2 separate regions of the Homo sapiens genome follow, and region 2 is linked to region 1. Evidence: fine-mapped expression QTL. Tissue or cell type: spleen. Region 1 holds a variant in brackets; the other region holds the start of a gene. All regions are shown on one strand. Distances are between the middles of the regions.

The links. PIP is the estimated chance that this variant, and not a neighbour inherited with it, causes the effect.
Region 2: it holds the start of SLC5A1, and the variant in region 1 is fine-mapped to the expression of SLC5A1 in spleen (GTEx, PIP above 0.99).

The regions. Positions count from the first base shown.
Region 1 is chr22:32,080,722-32,085,721 of GRCh38, forward strand. SLC5A1 (solute carrier family 5 member 1) reads left to right here. Exons shown (of 15, transcript NM_000343.4): 6 at 1,145-1,250; 7 at 2,353-2,433; 8 at 3,718-3,938; 9 at 4,179-4,314. Among named protein-coding and RNA genes, the nearest start is that of SLC5A1, 40 kb to the left of the region's middle. The variant A/AG (reference allele first, on the strand shown) is at 2,264.
Region 2 is chr22:32,039,102-32,045,426 of GRCh38, forward strand. It overlaps SLC5A1 (solute carrier family 5 member 1), which reads left to right and starts at 4,160. Exons shown (of 15, transcript NM_000343.4): 1 at 4,160-4,315. The coding sequence starts at 4,181. It also overlaps the pseudogene RPS17P16.

The sequences.
Region 1 (5,000 bases):
GCAGTGGCTCACGCCTGTAATCCCAGCACTTTGGGAGTCCAAGGCAGGCAGATCACGAGGTCAGGAGTTCGAGACCAGCCTGACCAACATGGTGAAATCCTGTCTCTACTAAAAATACAAAAATTAGCTGGGTGTGGTGGTGCACACATGTAATCCCAGCTACTCAGGAGGCTGAGGCAGGAGAATCGCTTGAACCCAGGAGGCAGAGGTTGCAGTGAGTTGAGATCGCACCACTGCACTCTAGCCCGGGCGACAGAGTGAGACTCTGTCAAAAAATAAATAAATAAAAAAGACTCACCATGATCATCCCTTAATACTACCCTCCCTGGTATTGTTTTGGAGATGACATGAACATGCATTTGGGGTGACCCTGGTGCTCTCTGCTGGTTTATATGAGCAACTGCACCATCCAGCCAGGTAGAAGGTTCATTAGGAGAAGGCTGAAAGAGACAGGAAGGAGGAGAAAGGGTGAAGATGGAAGAACTGCATCAAGAATTCAGGAGTGAGGAGGGAGCAATTCTCCCAGAAATTACATGAAATAATCTAAATAAAACCAGCAAGTACCAAGCCTGCTATGTAAGAGGTGCTTGGTGATGTTCTGGTTGTGTCTGAGTCAAGATGGACTGCATCCGGGTTGGGGAGTTAAAATTACAAACTTGCTAAGTTTCTCCCCGCTCCTGGGTGGGGGTGGGGTTTCTCACTTATGGACTCTCCAGCACTCAGACTTGCTTTTGGGGACGAGCTCTGATAAACCTGTGTACACTGAGGTGCAAAAGATGGACAATAGCTCAGAGCAACAGTCTACAGGTGACTTGCAAGGAACCTCTAAGTGTTAATAGCTGTTCCTTGGCAAAAAGAGTTCAATAGTTGAGTGAGTTTGTGAGATGTCATGTACCGTGTTCCCTCCCTGGGGATGACTGTACATGGCATATATTAAAGGCTCAGAAAAGTTGTGTGGCAAAGAAACTGCCTTAATTCTGTTTAGCATTTTATAGACCTTTTTGACCATGGAATTCTTTTTCTCATGGAATACGTATTATCATCTTGAATAAAGCTTGCTTGGAAAATCAGGAGTAGAGAGACTACAGGCCCTGTAGGCAGCTGACCACTCTCCCTCCTAACTCCGCCTCTCCTCTCCTTCCAGGCAGACATCTTCTCGGGGGCCATATTCATCAATCTGGCCTTAGGCCTGAATCTGTATTTAGCCATCTTTCTCTTATTGGCAATCACTGCCCTTTACACAATTACAGGTGAGTCCATTCAAATAAACCAGCACCTCAAACCCAGCTCGGGATCAGGCACTAGTGAAGGATAAAGGGAAGTAGGAGAGGTGGTTTCTCTTCTTGAGGAGAGATACACTCAGGTAAGAGTTTGGGAGTGAGGTATTTGCTTAGTACCAACTCATAGACCCTCCAAGTTATACAAGTGGTTTCAGAAAGCTGTGGTGTTGGCTGGGATAGTCAGGGCAGCTTCTCACAGGAGTGCATGCAGAGCTGGGCCCTGTGGGTTGTGGAGATGACTTAGCTAAGGTGGGAGAATCAGAGCAGTGGCAGGTGCAGAAATAAGTGAGCACAGGGGAGTGGAGGCAGGGTGGGCACGCAGATGCTCTTGGCTGGAGGAGGGTGGCCACTGAAGGATCGTGGGGGTTTGTGGGGACCATATAGCTTGATAGTTCAGATGAGGTCACAGCATACTGTGTGTTTTGAACACAGTATACTGGGGTTTGGAAAGCCAGGCAGAGGCCTTGGATTTGATGTGTCAGGGACTGGGAGCCCCTGTAAGGAGGGAGAAAGGCAGTGACTCACACACAGAGGTTTCAGAAGAGGACTCAAGTGGCCACCCAAGAAGCTGGTGCATAAATAGCAATTGGGGCTCCTTTGCAGAGGGGTCACTCTGCCTCCTTGGTGGGGGTGGGAGGGATCAGCTTTAGAACTTGCTGCTTGACTGCAGCCCCACAGCTTTGGGGACTAAGAAAAAGGTAGACATATGTCCCACCATCTCCACAGCCAGCTCTTTGCTCCTCCCTGCCTTGTGTGTGGAAGACGCTTCTTCTTACCACAGAGGAGTCATCTCCTTTGAGCCATCTTCTGGCTCAAAAGGGTCACACCAGACTCTTTCCCCTCAAGTAGGGAGAAACATTCGCCACTTCTATGACAGGTGGAGCTGTGGGAACATGCTGAATAGCAAAATACTGTAACAGGACAAGGGAGGGAAGGAAGGAGAGGCAGGCAAACCACTGTGGGGATGTTCTCAGAAGGCCAGC[A/AG]GAAGTAGAGGGTGGAGAGTGGGGAAGGAAGCAAGTAGACAGGTCACCCTCCACACGAGGTCAGATGTGTTGTCTTCTTGCCTGCTTAGGGGGCCTGGCGGCGGTGATTTACACGGACACCTTGCAGACGGTGATCATGCTGGTGGGGTCTTTAATCCTGACTGGGTTTGGTAAGTGGGGCCAGGGCAGGCTGAGGAGGTGGGAGCAGAGGTAGAGGGCCTCAGGAAGAGGAAGGCAAGTCCAGCCTCTCTACCTGCTTGCCAGACTAGGCAGTGAGCTGAGGCATGCTCTGCCCTTCCAAACGGAGGGTCCAGCCCAGATGGGCTGTCATTGTGGGTATGCAGGGTCAGCTTCCTTATCCCTGGAAGACTGAAGCTGGGGCTGGTCCTGGATTTTCTGCTGCCCTCTCTCACCAGTCTGGGCTAGTGGTTGTGCTGTGAGCCTGTGATAACATGGTGTTCTGTTTGCAGAGAAACTGGACAAAAAAGGATAAGGCTAAATATCCATCAAGCTAAATCTAGTCAAATGTTGCGTCTTCCATCTTAGGCTATATCTTATCTACATTTTGATGTCAAATATCCTTTCTTTTATGAATTGTTGATAGTGGGTGATAATGTTCCTTTTAATGCCCCTATTTGGCAAAATTAAAAACTTGGCTCCTCAGGGTTGGCCCTCCAATTAATTTTTTTTTTTTTTGCAATTTTACTTGTCTATGAAATCTTAAAGATGAGACTGGAGAACCTAGGTAAGGGTACTTATTATGGGAGGATAGAAAGTACATTTTATTTCTAGGTGCTCAAGGCCCACTGTGTATCCTGCAAAAACTTGTATTTGCTCTCCACTCTTCTGTTTTCTAAGGACTTTCATTTGGTTCTCCCCAGCAGGCCTTGGGTGTTAGCTAGGCAGGCAGTGGAATGACTTATTCAAGGACACACAATTGAGAGGTGGCAGGTTCTGGATTCCTCACCCATTCCCTGTCCATCCCACCACATGCTGGGTCCAGGAGTGGTAGGTGTGGGTCTGAGGTCCCAAAGGCCACTGTGTGTGTCTAGGTCTGTGTGTCTCTAGGCCTGAGTCCAAGGCTCCAAAGGCCATGGCTGACAGCAGAGGGTGAGGGAAAAAACAGAGTCTTTGTATGTGGTCCCAAACCAAGGTCTTTCTTTGATTAATAAAAGTCCCTTCCCTTTTACAAAGAGGTTTACAGTTGGAGTACTTTTACAAGTGATTGCTTTGGTCCCCATAATAGCCCCCAAGGGGGCTGGGCAGGGCTACTAATCTCATTCTATGGATGACAAAGCTGAGGCCCAGAATGGGAAGGTGATTTGCCCAAGGCCACTCAGTGAGGGCTCTGTCTGTGGGTTGGGTCCTCTCAGTTTCTCAGGCATCTATGGAAAGAAGCTGCTATGACGAGTTGAAGGTTTCAGAATGTTCATTTCTGTACCGATGTTTTCCAGCTTTTCACGAAGTGGGAGGCTATGACGCCTTCATGGAAAAGTACATGAAAGCCATTCCAACCATAGTGTCTGATGGCAACACCACCTTTCAGGAAAAATGCTACACTCCAAGGGCCGACTCCTTCCACATCTTCCGAGATCCCCTCACGGGAGACCTCCCATGGCCTGGGTTCATCTTTGGGATGTCCATCCTTACCTTGTGGTACTGGTGCACAGATCAGGTACCCAAGCTGGATGTGCGGGATGGACAGAGTCTTCTCCAGGGCCCTACAGGAACTCCTGTCTGTCTGTGGTTTGCAGGGTTGGGACAGGGAGGGGAGAGCTCAGGTGGTTTGTAAGTTGCCACGCCCCAGTGATACAGCAGTGCCAGGCCAATGACCCAAGATGGCGAAGCTAGGAAGTACAAAGGTGTCACAGGGTCTCTGGTCTGCACACCTCCCTTACTGGGCTTTTTCTGGCAGGTCATTGTGCAGCGCTGCCTCTCAGCCAAGAATATGTCTCACGTGAAGGGTGGCTGCATCCTGTGTGGGTATCTAAAGCTGATGCCCATGTTCATCATGGTGATGCCAGGAATGATCAGCCGCATTCTGTACACAGGTAATAACTTCTGCTGGACCCACAAACCACTCTCCCTTTTTCTGTCTCCAAGTCACTTCTAAAGCTCTATAGCTTCCCGCTTCCTCCTCTTTTTTTTTGAGACCAGGTCTCACTCTGTCACCCAGGCTGGAGTGCAGTGGTGTGATCATTGCTCACTGCAGTCTCCAACTCTAACTCCTGGGCCCTAGTGACCTTCCTGCTTCAGCCTCCTGAGCAGCTGGGACTACAGGTATGTACCACCATGCCTGCCTAATTTTTAATTTTTTTTTTTGTAGCGATGGGATTTTGCTATGTTGCTCAGGCTGGTCTTGAACTCCTGGCCTCAAGTGATCCTCCTGCCTTGGCCTTCCAAAGTGCTGGGATTATAGGCATAAGCCACCACGCCTGGCCCTCTTCTTTATTTGTTATGGTCATATCCAAGCATTATTGCTCCTGTGCTAGACAGTGAGCAACTTGAGGGAACTTTTGGAGTTGTCTTCCCTGGTTTCTTATGTCGACAATTGTTTCCTCCTTTTTTTTTTTTTTTTTTTTCAAATCTTCTAAAGTTATGACATGCCTCCAGGTCACTTCTCCCTAATAATATTTGCTCAATTGTTGCTTAATCTCTTGCTGTCATCCTTCCACCCTGAATGTTTCTTTGATTTCTTTCCTCCGTTGCCTAGAAATTGTCTTTCTTCCTTAGTCAG
Region 2 (6,325 bases), 41 kb before region 1:
TGAGCCACTGCTCCTGGCTCCATTTATTTTCTTTTATACTGTATTTTTACTGTAACTTTTCTGGGTTTACATACACAAATCATTACCATTGTGTTACAGTTGCCTACAGTATTCACTACAGTAACCTGCTGTACAGGTTTGTAGCCCAGGAGCAACAGGCTATACCATACAGCCTAGGTGTGTAGGCTATCCCATCTAGTTTGTGTAAAGACACTCTGTGATGTTCCCACAAGGGTGAAACTTCCTATGACGCATTTCTCAGAACATATCCTGTTGTTAAGTGACACGTGACTGTATGCTAATCGATAGCCTGCTTCTCTGGGCTTTCCACAACTGAACTCCCAATGAGAAAAAGGGAAAGAGCTCTTTTACCAAGGACCCGCCAACATGTGCCGCGTTTGCACCAAAACCGTGAAGAAGGCGGCCCGGGTCATCATAGAAAAGTACTACACACGCCTGGGCAACGACTTCCACACGAACAAGCGCGTGTGCAAGGAGATCGCCATTATCCCCAGCAAGAAGCTCCGCAACAAGATAGCAGGCTATGTCACGCATCTGATGAAATGGATTCAGAGAGGCCCAGTAAGAGGTATCTCCATCAAGCTGCAGGAGGAGGAGAGAGAAAGGAGAGACAATTATGTTCCTGAGGTCTCAGCCTTGGATCAGGAGATAATTGAAGTAGATCCTGACACTAAGGAAATGCTGAAGCTTTTGGACTTCGGCAGTCTGTCCAACCTGCAGGTCACTCAGCCTACAGTTGGGATGAACTTCAAAATGCCTCGGGGACCTGTTTGAATTTTTTCTGCAGTGCTGTATTATTTTCAATAAATCTGGCACAACAGCAAAAAAAAAAAAAAAAAAAAAGGGAAAGAAGAAAAAATTATAGCAGCTCTCTTCATCCCTCATCTTTGCTGGTGTCTCATTGTCAATGAGGCCCCTTCACACCCATCATTTGAGAGAGTCATTGCTGTCAATGCTGTATTACAGATGTTCAAAGAGAGGGTTGCAAATGCCAAGTGAGCTGTCAATGGTCTACTGCTTGTTGGTAGCTGAGCTGAGAATCAAACTAGCCAAGTAGGTTCTCTCTTCAGCCCCTTACTTCCCAAAACTCACAGACTCTGCACTTAGGCTGTTGATTTCTTTGTGTGGCAAGAGTTCAGGAGCTGGCCATTCCACTGTGGGGTCCTTTGCCAAGAAGCACAGTTTAGCCAGTGAGAGGTGGACATTGTACCATTGGGTCTCCTGGGGAGAAGCTCCCAGGCTGGTAGGAGAGGTGGAACCCCCAAGGGTCCTGGACAGATGAGTGTGGAAGGAGGAAGAGGAGACAGGACAGTTCCCACATAGTGATGAGTCCTTACCCTGCATAATGCTGGGTTCTCCCTGCCATCTGTAGACACTAGTGACCTCAGAGTCATTTGAATATTTGTTCTTTTTCTGACAGTCAGGTATGGCTGTGGCTCTGTGGGCATCTATTTTTAAATGTGGAATCCTTGTCTGACCACTGATTGTAAACCTATGTATACTTGGATAGGGAGGGGGCTGCTTCCTGCTCTCAGCTCTGTCTTTCCTTATCAGCCTCATCTTTCCTGCGGCCTGAGTGTCTGGCTGGCTTTTTTCTTTCTCGGGTGTTCTGCTAACAAGGGCCCCTTTAGTGACCAGATCCTGGTTTTGATTGGCACCAATGACGGCAAGAGAGAGTCCAACAGGATCCTACCAGTGAGCAGTGACCCAGCAGCTCAGGCCAGCTGCATGGGAGCAGGTGGGCATCACACTGTGTTCTCCTAGAAGCATCCATTCAGGGGAAATTGGGTTTGAAGTGTCCCTTTAGAAGAGACCAATGAGGAAGAGAGATGGCAAAAGGGCCTCAGGCAGCCTGGGGAATGACTGTGGTAGGGAGTTTCTTACAGGTGACATGCTTTTTATATATGTTTATTTGTAGCCCCAGCTAGTCCCTCCCTAAATATTGTAACCCCTTCCTTACTCCTCATGCTTGTCATCTCCTGGAATGTCCCTCACTCCCAGCTTACTTGGCCTATTCCTCCTTTTCTTTCAGGTCCCTGCTCAAACCAGAGCTTTCACAGAACTTACTCTAACCTCACCTTATCCCCAGGTTGAATTCCTTGGTAGGCATTTGGGGTATTAGTATTTCTCCTTCAAAGCATGTGTCACAATGGTAATTTCACAGGTAGTTGTCTCATCTTTGATGCTGATCTATCTCTGTCATTGGTCAGGAAGCTCTGTGAGGGCAAGAGCTCTGTGTCTTTTCATAGCTGTATTCCAGGGTCGGTACATATGATCTGGCACATAGAAGCTGCTCTTTTGTTGTAAGAATAAATGAATGAATGAATGGATGCATTTTCTGACCTCTACCTGGGCACCATCCTTTCCTTTCTTTTCCCATTTATGTTTGGCTCTCCTAAAAGATCAAAGAATGGCTCTGTCCCTCCTTTGAAGTCCTTTAGTACTTCCAGTTCTCTCTCCTGCTCGCTTCACTTTCTATGCCTTGTACTTTTGGAACTTGGCATGGCCTGGCTGCCTGCACCTGCACCTGGGTTCAGGGCTGGACTTTTCCTGTGGGTGGGTTCACTTCCAGACTAGAACAGAAGCTTCCTAAGGGCAGGGACTCTTCCTGGGATACATTCAGGTGAAAAAACTTGGCTGAATGCAGGAATGAATGAACACAGGCAAAAGGCGAGTTGCTCCAAGCTGCAGCTGACAGCTGAGCTCTAAGTCTTGGGAGGCATCCACAGCAGACAGCCCCTGCTTTCAGGTTCCTCGTAAGAATTCCTGCTTCCTTTGGGCAGGCATTATACTGGCCCCAGGACATAGCCTTATATAGTTTGCAGTCCTGGGGGATGTGTGGGGGAAATGGGGAAGACCTGTGGGGATGCTGTCCAAATAATGATTCTTTGTCTGCAGCTTCAGTGGGAAGAACAGTTGCTGATACGGAAGGAGGGGAGGCAGACCTCTGAAGCATTGAGTGCAAAGGAACAGGATGCTCACATTTAGGCAGTGGGTGGTTGTCTAGCAGTGGGCAGGGAGGGCCTGAGGCAGACCAGAGTCCTGGCAGGGTTTCTGTGGTCCTCTGCCTCCCTGCACCTCCCCATCAGAGCAAGGCCCCCCTCTTTGGGAACAGTCACTTTTGGCTGCTCTGTGGCCTCTAGAGCCAGCCCCTGAGAATACCCCACAGCCCTCCCTCTGAACCCTGGCATGGGCTGCAGGGCCAGCTCTGCTGCTGGTTTCCTGTATGACCTTGGGCAAGTCATGCCTCCTCTCTTGGTCATCTCTGTTCTGAGCCCTGGCTTGCTGTTTAGACATGTGTTTCCAGATGGGTGAGCTGAGTCCCCAGGAAGGTCAGGGTTTGATGAACTCCTTGGAAAGGGTTCTCTAGTATCTTCCCTTCTGCTGCCTCTGGAGGGCCCTGCATCAATACTGGGAGAGGGACAGGGCAAGGAAATAGCTCCCGGTGAGATCCCTTCCCCCAGTCTCAGTTTCTTCCTCTTTACAGTGGGGGTAACAGTGGACCTGGGGGCTGCAGGCTGTGGAGGGGGAGTCAGGAATGTGGGTGGGTGGGTGGCTGTCCTTGTGGCCAAGAGATTAGGATTGTGCTGGTTTTTTTCCAGTGACACCCAGCAACTCTCTGTCCTCTCAAGAATGTTCTCCAGGGAGAACAAGACTTGACTGATTCTTCAGAAGAGTGCTGCACCCATTTTACAAGCGGACAAGCCAAGTCCTTAGAAGGCATGGGACTAGTCCAAGGATGGGTGGCAGGTGATCTGAAGCCTCTAGGCTCCTAGCCCCAGGTGGCCTGTTCCCTCAATGGAGCCACTCCAGCTCTGGCAAGGGCAGGTGTGGTGGCGCTGCTGGTGCCTGCTGTGGGAGTACAGTGGGCCTTTGTGCCAGGCGGGCACCACCCCCTGGCTGGCCCCTCCCCATTCGCAGGACAGCTCTTACCTGCCGGGCCGCCGCCCCAGCCAACAGCTCAGCCGGGTGCTCCTTCCTGGGCTCCACGCCCGGAGCTGCTTCCTGACGGTGCAGCCGCAAGGCATCGCAGGGGCCCCGCGCTACTGCCCTGCTCCCTCAAAGTCCCAGGTCCCCTCCCCTGGTGCTGATCATTAACCAGGAGGCCGTATAAGGAGCTAGCGGCCCTGGCGAGAGGGAAGGACGCAACGCTGCCACCATGGACAGTAGCACCTGGAGCCCCAAGACCACCGCGGTCACCCGGCCTGTTGAGACCCACGAGCTCATTCGCAATGCAGCCGATATCTCCATCATCGTTATCTACTTCGTGGTAGTGATGGCCGTCGGACTGTGGGTATGCAGCGGGTTCTGGGATGCGGGTGGGGAGGGTGCGCACAGAGGAGGAGCAATGGCCTCGCTGAGCTGCAAGGGGCAGTAGGCTTAAGTGTCGGTGGAGGGGAGAGGAAATGACTTGGAAGCACTTTAGAAGCACTCAGAGGCACAGCATGAAGGGAGGAGGGCAAGCAAGGATGAGCAGAAGTGAGAAGGGTGCCCAGGGCAGCCTGCCAGGAAGGACCAAGGAGGATACCTGAGCCTGTGAGCAGAGAAGGAAGGTGGGGGTTTGAAGAGACCGCTGGAAAGTGTAAGGGGCAGGAAAGCGGCTGCTTAGAGCTACAGGGAGGGCTCTGGGGCTTGGGAGATGAGCCTCTAGCAGGTGACTACTGTCCTACCTTTTAGTCATCCAGTTTCAGATGGGAAAGAAATGGTGTGGAGTGGGAAAGCCACAGCCTCTGCCAGCCCCAGAGATGGGGATGCTGAGGTGGCAGACAGAGGGATGCTGACCCATGCCCCACTCCTGGGAGAGGCTAACCCAGAGGCCTTGTGCATGAGGATCCCAGGGGCTGGATCAAGTTAGAGATGAGAAAGATGGGTGGAAAAGGAGGAGGAGGAAGACCTGGGGGTGACCTGGCACTGGGGAGAGGGAAATGTGTGTGTCTCCTTTTGGGACTCTGGGGACACAGCAAACCAGAGAAACTTGTTCTCAGCCACCTGGAACATGGGCATTTCACTTATGACAGACTGTGGCAGGCCCAACAACTAGAGGAGGAGATGTTTTAAAAGTGTGCAGGACCGACTGTGGTGGTTCACTCCTGTAATCCTAGCACTTTGAGAGGCCAAGGTGGGAGGATTGCTTGAGTCCAGGAGTTCGAGATCAGCCTGGGCAACATAGTGAGACTCTGTCTCTACAAAAATAAAAAAAATTACAAAAAATATATAAAATGTTTGCAGATGTTCCAGCCATTCTCGTGATTGTTATGGAGGTGGAGGTGATAAGCCCAGGGAGGCTGCTGTAGCAGCTGGTGATTGTGTTGAACTCTTTTGACTTAGAGGAGAGGAAGGTAGGCATGAACACTTCTGTGGACACAGAGCTTTTTCAGGGACAAAAGGAAGTGTTTTTTTTTTTTTTTCCAAAGGAATTGTAGAAACTAGATGTGGCAGAATGCCTCCCAAGTGTCACATGGGGTCAGTATGGCTGACTTTTCCTCAATACTCTCAGCTTCCCAGACATAGTGGAAACTGACCAACTAGGAGCCAGGATACTCAAGTTCACTACTGGCTTTCACATGGTTCAAATCATGGAACATTGGGTAACTTCCCTCAGCCTCCAGTTTACTCAACTTTAACATAGGTACACTCTTATCTATTCTAATGACTCCCCCATGGTTGTGGTGAGGATACGCAGAGGTGAATCTGAAAGCTGTTTATGGACTCTAGGATTAAAAAAAACTACTATTGTCATTTACCTTCCATGGTATGATCTGGGCTCTGAACAATGTTTATCCTTTTAAGTAAAATGGGCAGCAGTGGTCAGGTGGGTAGTATATTTTTACAAAAGCCACAAGACAGGGAAGGCCAGAATGCTAATCCCCGTTTTACAGAAGAGGAAATTGAAGCCTCATGTGGTTGTGATTTGTCTAAGGTTACAATAGATGAAATTGTTCCTGGAACTCAGATCTCTTGACTCCTGATTTTTTATGGTACCAGGCACTCTGCCACTGTGACTGACTTCCTCCTTCCACCCCACCCCAGCTTATAAGTGCTGGAGCCAAGGTGTGAGCCCGTCATCTGCTGGCTATACAGTACTGCCTGTTTCCCAGACAATCTCTGATAATATCGGTTCTCTTAACCAATCTCATTTTAGCCCTGCCAGTCTAGTAGGTGTTTATACTTTTTAAATGGTGTTTACATGTTTCAAGTATCTGTGAATCAGTATCACTTGTCCTGCTAAATGCTACTTAATAGCCTGTTTAGTATTTGTCTATGTTTAATCTTCCCCCATTAGACAATGCCTCTGGACCCTGGT